Linked DNA regions of Homo sapiens: all the other regions are reported to be linked to region 2. Evidence: microRNA targets listed by miRTarBase, many of them from high-throughput screens and not tested one by one. Region 2 holds a microRNA gene; each other region holds the end of a gene's coding sequence.
The links. Region 2 holds the annotated microRNA hsa-miR-5195-5p (AACCCCUAAGGCAACUGGAUGG, at 1,580-1,601, opposite strand). A microRNA usually pairs through its seed, bases 2 to 8, with sites in the 3' UTR of a target mRNA and lowers its output. Matches are read on the target gene's strand: a 7mer-m8 pairs with bases 2 to 8, a 7mer-A1 pairs with bases 2 to 7 and ends in A, and an 8mer does both.

Region 1: miRTarBase lists SRSF11 as a target of hsa-miR-5195-5p. Seed matches in the 3' UTR shown: 7mer-A1 at 2,557-2,563.
Region 3: the mRNA of SETD1A is a reported target of hsa-miR-5195-5p. Seed matches in the 3' UTR shown: 7mer-m8 at 3,202-3,208.

The regions. Positions count from the first base shown.
Region 1 is chr1:70,250,071-70,254,259 of GRCh38, reverse strand. SRSF11 (serine and arginine rich splicing factor 11) reads right to left here. Exons shown (of 12, transcript NM_001350605.2): 11 at 3,757-3,895; 12 at 1,208-3,652. The coding sequence ends at 3,455. Among named protein-coding and RNA genes, the nearest start is that of SRSF11, 31 kb to the right of the region's middle. RefSeq lists a silencer at 137-337.
Region 2 is chr14:106,849,364-106,853,552 of GRCh38, forward strand. It overlaps MIR5195 (microRNA 5195), which reads right to left and starts at 1,636; the gene lies at 1,522-1,636. The region is part of intron 1 of LOC124903399 (a long non-coding RNA gene); the gene reads left to right. It also overlaps IGH and the pseudogene IGHV5-78.
Region 3 is chr16:30,983,422-30,987,610 of GRCh38, reverse strand. SETD1A (SET domain containing 1A, histone lysine methyltransferase) reads right to left here. Exons shown (of 19, transcript NM_014712.3): 18 at 3,839-3,976; 19 at 2,947-3,761. The coding sequence ends at 3,588. It overlaps HSD3B7 (hydroxy-delta-5-steroid dehydrogenase, 3 beta- and steroid delta-isomerase 7), which reads right to left and starts at 2,404. Exons shown (of 7, transcript NM_025193.4): 1 at 2,314-2,404; 2 at 1,787-1,958; 3 at 1,407-1,562; 4 at 1,080-1,188; 5 at 907-1,006; 6 at 609-771. The coding sequence starts at 1,952. RefSeq lists an enhancer at 2,423-2,935.

The sequences.
Region 1 (4,189 bases), not on the chromosome of region 2:
TAATAAAACCTTAATAGACATTCTGAATGCTTTTAAAAGTATGAGTAACAATTCCATTACACCCATATTTAATTAAAACACAACCACATGTACTTGATTAGAAAAAATAGAAGCACAGGGATGAAATGCATTAGCTGGTTTTGAGGCAGACTGAGGGAAAAGAAATCTCAATTCCATTTGAAAAGATGTGTATCAATCTACAAACAGCATGCATGGATCCAACCCTTCATCTAGTGCCCAACTGAGTGATAATTTTGCTAGAGATAAATTTGATGTATTAATACTGTAATCTGCATGACATAAGCTGTATAATGCACACTCCAGAACCTGACTCAGTTTTAAGATGTAGCTCCAAGGTTAACAGTAATTTTTATCCTCTCCTTCCTTTTCCCAAGTGCCTATTTGCATTTTTCTGTCTTCCATGTATAGAATTGCCACGAGGAAACTTACCTAAGATCCATCTTCATGAAAACAGTTAAGGGCAACACAGCCTTTTCAATAAAAGGTATGCAATTTATTTTGTGCTTTTAACATTACCCCCTACACAAATTATTAGTTACATAACTTTTAAGGGCCCCATAATCAAATAGCAGCTATCATTTAATGTCCCAGGCACCAAAGGCTACATTTTAAAAATTACTGTTTTACAGATACAGATGGGGTCTTGCTATTACCCAACCTGGAGCGCAGTGGCATGATCATAGTTCACTGCAGCCCCAACTCCTTGGGTTCAAAGTGATCCTCCTGCCTCAACCTCCACAGTAGCTAGAACTACAGGTGTGCACCACCACACCTGGCTATTTATTTTTTTGTAGACAGTGTCTTGCTATGTTGCCTAGGCTGGTCCTGGGCTCAAGCACTCCTGCCTTGGCCTCCCAAAGTGTTGGGATTACAGGCATGAGCCATAGTGCCCAGCCAACAACTTTTATATGCACTGGGAAGCCAAAAAAATTCATGAACTGCTTTATTGTAGTCTGGAACTAAACCCACAATACCTCCGAGGTATGTCTGTACTTTGCAAGGTAGCAATCACTTCCATTTTACCCGTAGGAAACTGAAGGTAAGGAACACAGTTATCTCCAGCTCTATGAAATAAAGACCAAATGCATGACTGGACTCTTATCTTTCCATTTAAAAAAGCTCATTGTATAGCTACCACCTCTCGTTCACTCCTAAAGGATTTAAGCAAATAAATAAGGACAAAACATTTTTCTAACAAAAACCACTTTTATTTTTAAATCAATTTACTATCAAATACACAACAGAACTCGGTGTGGAGGCAGTGTTTGATTTCAACTGGTTATCTGTTAAAAGGCTTGTGTCCCAGTGCAACACTACCTTTGTGCAGAAAATGTTCACTGAAAATAAATATCCTAAGAATGGATAATCTTCACTGTAGCATCTTGTCAGTGGCACTACTTTTAAAAAAATGATTCCCTTTAGAAAAGCTAGTATATTTGTATTCAGAGATTACAAGTGAGGGAACACACTGTGAATATTAGGTTTACCATATGTGAAATTTGTTTTTGACTTACAAAAATGCCCATGTCACATGGTTCACCTTTTATCTACTAAAGTTTAAAACAAATGTCATTTGTGTTGAACTTTGTTTTTTAAAAATGCAGTGATTAGGACCATTATTAGAACTTCTTTTACTCACTATAGACAATTCTTTTTGATAAAATCTTTAAAAAGTTACTTACTACAAACTGTAAAAACAATGCTGTTTTTCTATATGGCATTTCAGTTTTTAGGTTAAAAAAAACAAAACAAAACCCTATTTATACTCAAAACTTGGATAAAAGCTACAATTCCAAGTCTCATTTTCCCTTAACCCCAGCCACCCAAACACTACTCATTTCATAAATGAATACTATTTAGTACTGTACAGTAGATACATATTGACAGCTTCTATACTACTCCAGAAAGGCAAATATCTGTATTTCACCGAAAATATAAATTTGCTAGATATAGGTGGGATTTGTTTATACTAAAGTTCATTGCTTTATCCAACCCCATTCCCACACAAAAAATAAGCAATAAAATGATACTAAGCTAAGAAAAGGACTATTTTGGATAGAAATTAAATCATTTTTGACAATTTTGATGGCAATTATCACTACAGTGATAGACTTCCTCTTTTTACTATACTGAAATATGTGGACAGAAAGGGAAAGAATTTGTAAAATGAATGAGGTAAATGTCATACATTCAGTAGCGTAAATAAATACAAATACGGTTTTACAGGAACATGAACATAAGTTTAAGGGTTTTATTATCAAAGTCTTGTAAAACAATTTCAGAAACTGTACATCAACATGGCACAGACTGTAGCCTACTTTTGTTTCTACTGCACAAAAGTGAAGCTTGAAACTTCTGTAACTAAGAAAACAGTTGCCTACTTTGCATATATAACATGAAATCACCGTGTGCATAAGATTACTACTGCAGTAACACAAATTTATTGGTTTTATACAACTTGAGATCAAATAAAGGTACATTATCAAGTAGATTTGTCTTATTTTAAAAGCGTATGAAGGTCAATTTAAAATGCACTACCCCTTTTTTCCAACACGGAGCTTAAAACAAATTAATGAAAGAGTGGAAAATTCAAAATAAGGGCAAGAGATAAGGTTTTTTTCTTTTTTTCCTTTAAGATAGACTCAGGATAGGTAGATAGCTTTCACTGATGTAGATGTGGAATAAATTATTACTTCAGGAAAAAAATTCCCAAACATCTTATGAAAAAGTATACAACTCTACTTCAAAATATGCTATTTACTCACTGCCAAAGACAGTTTTATTTGAAATCTTGTTTCTGTATTTAAACCCTAATTAGCCACCAAAAAAGGTTAGTGCATAATAACCTTTCAAAGTTAAACAAAAGCCACAAAAATTTTGCCACAAGGCTTAAAGGATTATCTATTTCAAATGCTCATTTCCAGATGTAACTATAAGAATGTTAATTTGTCATGTCAACAAACAAGACCATAAGTAGATCCATCATGTTGGAGGATTTTAATGACATTTAGGATATTCTTGCCACAATAACATGCAATCAGTGCATTTCCTACATGGCTCTATTACGGCAATGAATCAAATTATAGAAATACTATAAGTGAACTTACTTAATAAAGGATATCATACGACATAAACAATCCATGCCTGCTGTAGATGCATGCAGCTTTTCATTTTTGTTATGAAGCAGCACCAGAATAGTAAAACTGCTTGGTTACTCAATCAGATTTCACCATGACAAGAATTGGTTACCTCGTACCATTTTCTAAAAGCTTTTTGATGTAAATAACTAATATGAGTAACAGGAGCTTTATAACCATTTATAACTCAGAGCTGTATACATCTAGGTTTGAGATGAACAAATACAGCATTAAGAAATCACACAAAGGAATGACACTGATGCAGGTATACAGTTGGACTCCCTCAGAGGCAATATTCAGTCACTCATATCCATGTCTTCTTCATGATGATCATCCCCATTCACTTTGGATTCTCTTAGTGAATCACCAGTTCCCTTTTCCACAGAACATTCCTTTGTTTTAGGGGAACCTGTTTCTATTGGTTTCTTCTCTTCTTTTTTCTCTTTCTCACTGTCATACCCCTGTTCCTCTTCATCATAATCCCGTGTAACCTGCTTTGCCAAGGAGAATAATAAAAGTAAACTTCTCCAAAGAAAAATAACTTCTGAAAGTACCAACATCACCCCAAATATAAAAATAAATCAATTTGTAAACATACTTTTACATCTTTATCACTCTCTGATTTTCTTTCCCGGTCCTTTTCCTTATCTTTACTCTTCTTCTTCTTGCTTGTTGATCGTTCTCTTTCATCCCTACTTCTTTCTTTGTCTTTATCTTTCTTCTTCTCCTTTTTATGTCTAGAATGACAGTAAAATGTACAGCAACAGGTTTAACTTGTTTAGATGATGAGCCTGACTCAATTTCACAGGATATAAGTAGTACAGCAAAGATCCAACTTCAAAACCTTGGAGAAGTAACACAGGCTACAAAACTAACTTGTTTATAGGACTAAAATGTTCAGTCCTTAATGGTGTTTAAGTCACAAGTCAGAAGGAGAATACATTAAAACATTCTTAAGAACTGTAACTGCTGAAAAGAAAAACTACAGGACAGTTTTAAAATGAAAAACCTCTGAAAAATATAAAAAATAC
Region 2 (4,189 bases):
CCTTTGTGTACTGGCTTTCTTGAATGCTGGTTATAGCGGTAATGAACTGTTCACATGGACAGACTCAGGACCTCCTGGTCATCCAGAGTGGTGCAGGCACTGGTCATAGCTGAGATCACACAGTCATTTTCTCCTTTCTGGGTGCAGTGATAGTCTACCAGGAGATACTGTGATGGACTGTTTATTGGCTTCCTGCTTGGAGATGGTGCTTTCCAAAGAGCACCAGCTACAGTATTAACAGTGGGGTTTTTGCTTGGCTTATGTTGCCCAGGAATAGGGGCTACTGTGGATTCTCAGGCAGTGGGTGTGGCCATGTATCTCCCAAAAGATGCTGTCCTTTGTGTTAAGCTGCCAGGGCAGATGGCTGCATAAAGCAAGGTGAGGGCTGGGCCAGGTAGGTTTCTGCTCAGAGTATCCTTGTGCAGGGCAAGCAGCAGCCTCTCTGGGTATGGGAGACACAGATAATGGTGAATTCTATTCTTAATCTGCTGTTTAATTTTGTTTGTCATCTCATCACTCTTGAGAGTTTTTGAAACTATGATAATCAGGGATATTGGCCTGTAGTTTTATTTACTTGTAGTGTCTTTTCCTTGCTTTGGAAATAGGGCCTTCCAAAATAAGCTTGGATATATTTCTTTCTCTTTATTTTGTTGGAAATTTGAGTAGAGATTCTAGGTTTTTTTTAATTTTTGATAAAATTCAGTAGTGAAGCCATGAAGTTCTGGACTTTGATTCGAGATGTTGGAAAAATCACTGACTCGATCTCTTTACTCATTGGTCTGTTCAGATTTTTTTTAATTGGAGTCTCACTCTGTTGCTCAGTCTGGAGTGCAGTGGCTCGATTTTGGCTTTCTGCAACCTCTGCCTCCCAGGTTCAAGTCATTCTCCTACCTCAGCCTCCCGAGTAGCCGGGACTATGGGACTGCGGGTGAACACCACCACACCCAGCTAATCTGTGTATTTTTAGTAGAGACGGGGTTTTGCCATGTTGGCCAGGCTGATCTTGAACTCCTGACCTGAGGTGATCCACCCGCATCGGTCTCCCAAAGTGCTGAGAATACACATATGAGCAACCACGCCCAGCCCAGATTTTTTATTTCTTGGTGGTTCAGTTTTGATAGGTTGTATGTCTTTAAAAATTTGTCTATTTATTTTAATTTATTCTTAACCAAACAGGTTCTAAAATATTTGCAAGATTACTCACAGGAAATCTATTTATGACAGAAGTCTTTGTTATATCAAAATATTTACGAATTGGCACAAAGATGAATTATTCAGTGCATATTGTTAAAAGGAAAACAACAACAAAAACAAGATAACTTATTAATGGTACAAAAAGGGGTTAAATGATTTTGGAAAAGTAAGTAGAAAATAAAAGAAGGAGGGAGTAAGAGCGGACAGAAGGGAGGAAGGCAAGCAAGCAATGATGAACTGTGTAAAATTTTCACTAATTAAAAGACTATTATATTGAAGAGGTGCCTATTAGGCAGCCTTTTGATGTTAACCATGTAATATACACCATGAACAACCTTGTAGAACACACAAGAGCCCCCTCAGAGAACTGGATGGGTCAGGTCTCCCATCCAGTTGCCTTAGGGGTTAGGAACGCTCCCATGTTGTTCTCTGGTTTTTGCTCCTGAGGACACAAACAGCCAGTGTTTCCTCCCCGGATGAATAGAGAGGCCCCTGGGGAGGGTGTGTCTGGCAGCTCACTCTGCACCTGCACCGCGGAAGGTTTTAGATGGTCCCTCTCACACAATAATACATGGCGGCGTCCGAGGCCTTCAGGCTGCTCCACTGCAGGTAGGCGGTGCTGCTGGAGCTGTCGGCTGAGATGGTGACGTGGCCTTGGAAGGATGGGCTGTATCTGGTATCAGAGTTCCCAGGATAGATGCTCCCCATCCACTCCAGTTCTTTCCCGGGCATCTGGCGCACCCAGTGGATCCAGTAGCTGGTAAAGCTGTATCCAGAAGTCTTACAGGAGATCCTCAGAGACTCCCCGGGTCTTTTCACCTCTGCTGCAGACTGCAACAGCTGCACCTCGGCAAAGACACCTGTGTGGGAGACACAAAATTTGCATCAGGGGCTCCCTTCTGCCCATTCTTCTCTGTGACCTCAAACCCTGGGCAGGACTGACCTTGGAGAACAGCCAGGACGAGGGAAAGGATGACGGTTGACCCCATCCTGGAGGAGGACAGAAAAGAAAGCACTGAGATCCCAGCTGGGTGGTGAAGGAGACTCACTGTGGAGGAGAGCCCTGGGTTTAAGTGGGGAGGCCCCCACTTGAATTTGCATAGTTGCCGCCCTGGCCTGAAGGGAAGAGTCTACAAGGTTTATAACCCAGAACCGCAACTGCAGAAAAACGGCTGAACTGAGCCTCTTGGGAGAGGCAGAATAAGGTCTTAATAATGTCTTACAACCCCCTGTTGTCCCTCCGCACTCTTGTCCATGGTCCTACAAGACCCAAACCAGGGCCTCCCTTCTTCCTACCCTTCTCTGTGACCCTGTGAAGGTGATAAATCTAGATGAAATCACGTGTGTTTTAAAAAATGAGAAATAGAACCAGGAAATGCTATGAAGACAAAATTCAAATGCACATATGCCTGATAATAAGAACTACAAAAAAAAAAAAAACACCTAGTTTCTACTTGCTGGCAATTTCCCATGAGTGCCATTATGGTCTGGGCACCCAGCAAAGGCAGGACCACCCTAGGGCTTCAACAGTCCTCAACTTGATTAACTTGCCAGACCTTCACCCATGCCAAATCACACATTTTTTCTGGTCATTTTGTCTTCTACATTTCTACAGTCTGCCAATTCAACATAAATAGGGAATATTTGTTTAGGTCTCTGAATTGCTGATGGAACTGAAGGGATTGCCATTGCTGCACCCAACTCCTGGTAGTTCTGTTTTAAGTCCTTTGTGTCAACCCCAGCACCTTCTTGTTTAGTTCTTTCATTTTTTAACATTCATTTTATGATATCCACATTGCTTGGAGGAGGCCCTTAACTATCCCCTGTGTCTGCCCCATTATCTTGTGAACCACTCTCATTTCCTTATCATCTAAAAGATTCAAATGAAAAGACAAGGCAATACAAACTACACAGTTTCTAAAATATTTGCCAGATTGCTCACAGGAGTTGTACCTGGGGTGCAGAAGCAAAAGGACTTCTCTTTATCACAGCACAGGCCATGACCTAGGTAAGGTGCATGCGAAGCAATGTCCAGCAGCATCAACAGAAACACACAGCAGCAGGACCTGGATAAGATGCATGCTAAGCAATGACCGTCGGTATCAACATAAACACATAGCACTATGGCTTCCATATACAGCATTGGGCTCCTCATCTGGAGAGCCCACTTTGCATTTTAAAGAGAGAAAGGGCAGTCTCATTCTCAGGGTAGAGAAACTTTACATGATCGGGATCCAGTGCTTGAGGAAAGCTGTCCCATCAGAAGCATCCTACTTGAGGTTGGGATCAGCTAGAGCCATCTGTGATGTGTCTATTGTGAGCTGTGGGTCCAGCATCTTCCCAAACATGCTCCTCCCTTATGCAACACATGAAGCCAAAGAGAATCTGCTACATCAGTCAGTCTCCTAGTCCATTGGCTAATGTTGTTCACGATCTGATGATATCTATTAATGATATCATTCATATCACAAAATGATGCCACTTTCCACACTATCCTCCCTGTTCTAGTTGTCAAGTGGATTCCCCTCCCCAGTCCAAACCCTGGGCTACCATCTGTGTAGCTCTTGTGTGTTGTGTGTTGTTTCTGGACAACTGTACCCTTTGGCAGTGAATGGGAGTCTAGCAGCCTTGGCTCACAGGGCACACTGCAGGGCTGGATGTGCATCTTTTTACTATTATTTTAGCTATCACAGATATGAGTTGCATACTCAGGTTGTTCTTCATTATTTTTACTTGTTCTTGTTCAGGGAACAACTCCTAGGGAGCTGTGTCCGTCGTTTCTAAATTCCATGGATTACTTTCACTTCCTGCTCCTTATTGGAGTGCACACATCATCTCATGCCATGTGATTCTATAGCCATCCAGGCACTGAATGTCTTTTATCCTACACTTTCTCATCCTTTGATATTATAAATGCTATAGACATGTGTCAGTAGTCAGGGTCTTTCTAGCAATTTACACCTCTGATGTAATTGTGTTGAGTGTCCCAAGACCA
Region 3 (4,189 bases), not on the chromosome of region 2:
GTCACTTGCTCTCCTGGGCCAGCCTGCATCTGCAAAGAACCTGGGGAGAGGATAGAGAAACCAGGACCTGCGTGGTGGGCCCTGAGAGGCTTGGGGACTGCAGGATGGAGTGGCAGGTGACCTTATTCCCTGTGTAGATGCTACTTCCTTTAAAAAAAGTTTTAGAGACAGGGTCTGTCTCTGTCATCCAGGCTGGAGTGCAGTGGTGCGGTCATAGCTCACTGCAGCCTCCAACTCCTGGGCTCAGGCCATCCTCCCGCCTCAGCCTCCTAAAGTGCTGGGATTATAGATGCGAGCCACTGAACCCAGCCCTTTTAGTGCTGTGTACACACTGTCCCTCTCCTCTCCTCTCCTGGGGAATGGCTGCTCCCATAGCTGCAATCTTCTCTGTAGCCTATGATACACTTTTTAATGTCCCAACTTGCATGGATCCTGTATTCTCTGCAGGCTGTGGAGACATAATCACAGTCTACCTTGGCCCATGTATAGACCATATTTTTCTAGCCAGAGTCCACACTTCTCTCCCAGGGCCATGTGGGTCCTGCCCCCTTCTAGAGCAAGTCCTCCTGCCATATTCTCAGCCTCCCCCTGCCTAGCCCAGTCCTCACCCACATAGACCCGGCCATGCTCCACAGAGGCCGGGATGGCCCGGAAGAGCCAACCTCCCAGGCGCAGGCCCTGGCGGTAGAAGTCCCTCATGATCTGGTGGCCTTCACCGTAGATGCCCGTGGGACGAAGGGCACACGTCACCAGGGGCAGCCCCCCACGGACCTGGTGGCAAAGGCAGGTACTGCTGAGACCTGGGACCCGACAGCTTGCTCTCGGCCCCGGCCTCCTTGGGCTGGCAGGGTAAGGGGGTGTGCAGGGCAGGAGCCCCATCTCTGCGCCTCCTTTTTCTGGGCTCACCTTCCTCCCGTTGGCCTCCAGGACCAGCCACTCGGCCAGGGCCTTGCTGCAAGGATAGGGGTGCCTGTGCACTGCTTCGTATGGGGTGTCTTCGTTGCCCCTGGTGGGAGGAGAAGGAAGACTCAATGCTGAGGGAAATGGGCTCTTAGAGGACAAGAGGGCCTGCCACTCACCTGTAGAAGGGGTGACCTTTGGTGTTAGGCCCCACAACTTCCATGCTGCTGGTGTAGACCAGGAACCGTGTTCCGGTCTGCACACAAGCCTCGATCACGTTCCGGGTACCTGGCAGAGGAGGAGGCGTATCCAAGCTGCAGCTTCTTCCCTCTCTGCATCTTCCTCCTCCCCATCCCAGGTCCAGGGAAAACCATGACAGGTCAGGGGAGGCGGGGGCAGGGCTGTCAATAGGACAACTTGTCCCAGGGGAGTCACCGGAGGTCAAGGCCAAAGACAGAGTGGGGAACAAACAGGCAAGATGGCCAGGAGTGTCCAGAGCTCCTCACCCTGCACGTTGACCTCATGGATGGTCTTGGGACTGGCCCTGCCAAACACGTCTACCAGCCCAGCCGTGTGGATGACCACATGGGCTCCGGCCACAGCTGCTGCCACCTCATGGGCCTGGGTCACGTCCCCCTGGATGGCAGTCACCCTCACAGGCCCTGGCCGGGGTTGGAGGACACAGGCCATGTCAGAGCTGGGGCCAGAGGCCAGAGGCTGGGTTCATCTTCCACCCTGGAGTCACGTTCCCAATGTGACTCACTCGACCCATCCATGTGGACAGAAACCAGCATCATCTGTTCCACTGCAGGGGTGGGGATCCCAGCTTGGGAAGGGTTGGGGAAGCGTCCACACCCTCTCCACCACAAGCTCCCCCAACAAGAACCTGTCTTCAGCTCCTCCAGCCAGGGACCCAGGTGTTGGTCAAAGACCCGCAGCTCCCCGAGCCGGGGCTCCCGCTGCAGCAGCATTCGCACCACGTGCTCTCCCAGGAAGCCACAGCCCCCTGTGACCAGGTACACCAGCTTCTGGGCCTGTGCAGAGTCGGCCATGCCTGGCTGGGGAAGAGACCTTGGCTCATCCAGGGGCTGGCTGCCACCTGCTGCAACCACCTGTTACTGCTGGAGGTGCCCTGGAGCGGTGACGAGGCTGGCGTTTGCGGGGAGGGCAGAGCTGATCCTGGGAGCTGCAGCAACCAGGCCACCTGCCGTCTGCCCCTGCTGATGGCTGAGTTACGGAGAGAGGGGCGGGCTTGGGGTGCAGGAAGGGGTCAGGGTTTAGGGAGAGAGATTTGAAGGCAGTAAAAGGGTGGGGAGGCCAGGAGTTGAGGGAGGTGGAGGGAAGGTTATAGGAAGGTGGGAAGGGCCGGATGGAGGGAAAGGCCACCTGGGCACTGGCAGCGCCTCTGCCTACCTGCAGCCGCTATCCCAGGGTGCCCAGACTGGCCTGGAGGGGCCCTCTTCTTTCGTCCAGGGCTGGCCGGCCCGCACACCGTCCTTCCGCTGGCTCCTCCTTCTCCCTCCTGCCCCATTCCAGGAACAGAGACCCGCCCAGCCACAACCCCCACCACTCTTGCCCCAAGGCGCCCCCTGGCGGCCGCTCTGTGCTCCACTGGCATCTGGGTCCAGCGGAGAACTTGGTGGGGATGAAGCTCGAACTTGCAGAGTGGGCTGAAGGGGTCTGGGGCTGTGGGTGGAGCCAGCGGTGACCTCATCCCACAGTGTGACCTCAGGCCTTCCCTCCTGCTGGGCTTCCCAGGAGGCCGGAGGTCCAGCTGCAGCTGTGATTGTAGGAAGGGGAGGCCTGACCTTGGCACCACCCTGGCGGGCACTGGTGGGGTATTCCTGGTGCGGGTGCGGCTGCTGCAGCCTGTCAGGGGGTCCGAGACAGTCTCGGACTGTCTCTGCAGGTCTGGGCTCTTGCCTGAAGGCCCCTTTACCTGCCCCACACTTCAGGTACCCACTTTTCCCTCTCTTCAACTTGCACAACCCTCCGTGCCCTCTACCCCCAACCCCTCGCTCCTGCCCAAATACACCGACCAAACACTTTTGTACAATAAAGTTTAATCACAATTATAAAAATGTGGCGTCGGGTTTGCGCTATTAACATATGTACAGTCCAGCCCAGCAAAAGGGACCCACCCCGCCATCCTGGCCTGGCTGAGCCGGGGAGTGACACCAGGGTGGAAGGGTGACCCTCAGGGTCTGGCAGGAACAGATGAGGCAGGGTTCCAGGCACGGAGTCCCCAGGACTGGGGGTGCAGAGCCCCCCCAGGGGGAGAACATGGCCACTGCCCCAGAGACCCCTAAACTGGGGAGGGGTACACGCAGGGCGTAAGGGGAAGTCCCCATTAACACAAAGCAAGAGGACTGTGTAGCCCCCCAGGACAGAATCTGTACAGGCCGGCACCCCAGGTTTCCACAGGAAACAGCTGCTGGCTGCTACAAAACATTTACAGCTTCTTCTCCGCAAAGAAAAACAATCAGGGGGTGGTGGGCAGGGGTGACAGGAGAGGCAGAAGCTGCCTCCAGGGACTGAGGCTCCCTCGCTGGGCTTGGGGCCCCCAACCCCACGCTTGGAGATGGGGGCATGTGGGCCCTGCTGAGCCCACTAAGGCTGGGGGGGTGCTGGGAGCTCAGGGCACCAGGGGGAATAAATAGGGGTGTGGGCACCCATCCTGCCCCACCTCAGTTTAGGGAGCCCCGGCAGCTCTCTGTGCCACACAGACACGGGATCTTGTTGTCTTCCAGTGGGAACTTGTAGTCGTAGGTGATCTCCTCGTCCACGCCAATGGGCTGCTTGGAGTAGATCACGATCTTCTTCTGGGACTCGATGGTGATGACCTTGGCGTAGCAGTTAGGCTGCGGATGGAAGGGCGTGTGAGCCGTGGCCACCCCCACCGACCCCCAACTCCTGCCCCGGCTGGCCCCTGGCGCACCGTGCAGCAGTGGTTGATGAATCTGGCCAGGTTGCCACACTTGGTGGCATCGATGATGGTGTCGTGGTCCACCCGGAACAGGTAGCTGCTGCCAATGCCCTCCTGCACGTAGCGCTTCTCCCGCATGTCGGCCACCATCTGCCAGGGTGAGATGCGATGGTCAGGGAAGAGTCCCCCACTTCCTGCCCCTGAGCACGCCTGCCAGCCAGCACCCCAGGTCCACGCCCACCAGGCCTGGAGCTGCAGCTCTGCCTCCAGCTCCCGCTAACCCGGCACTGACTCTCTCGACTCTGCTTCCAGGAGCCCTCCCTCTTTGGGGCAGCATCCTAAGCCTCTGGTGGCCATTCTAAG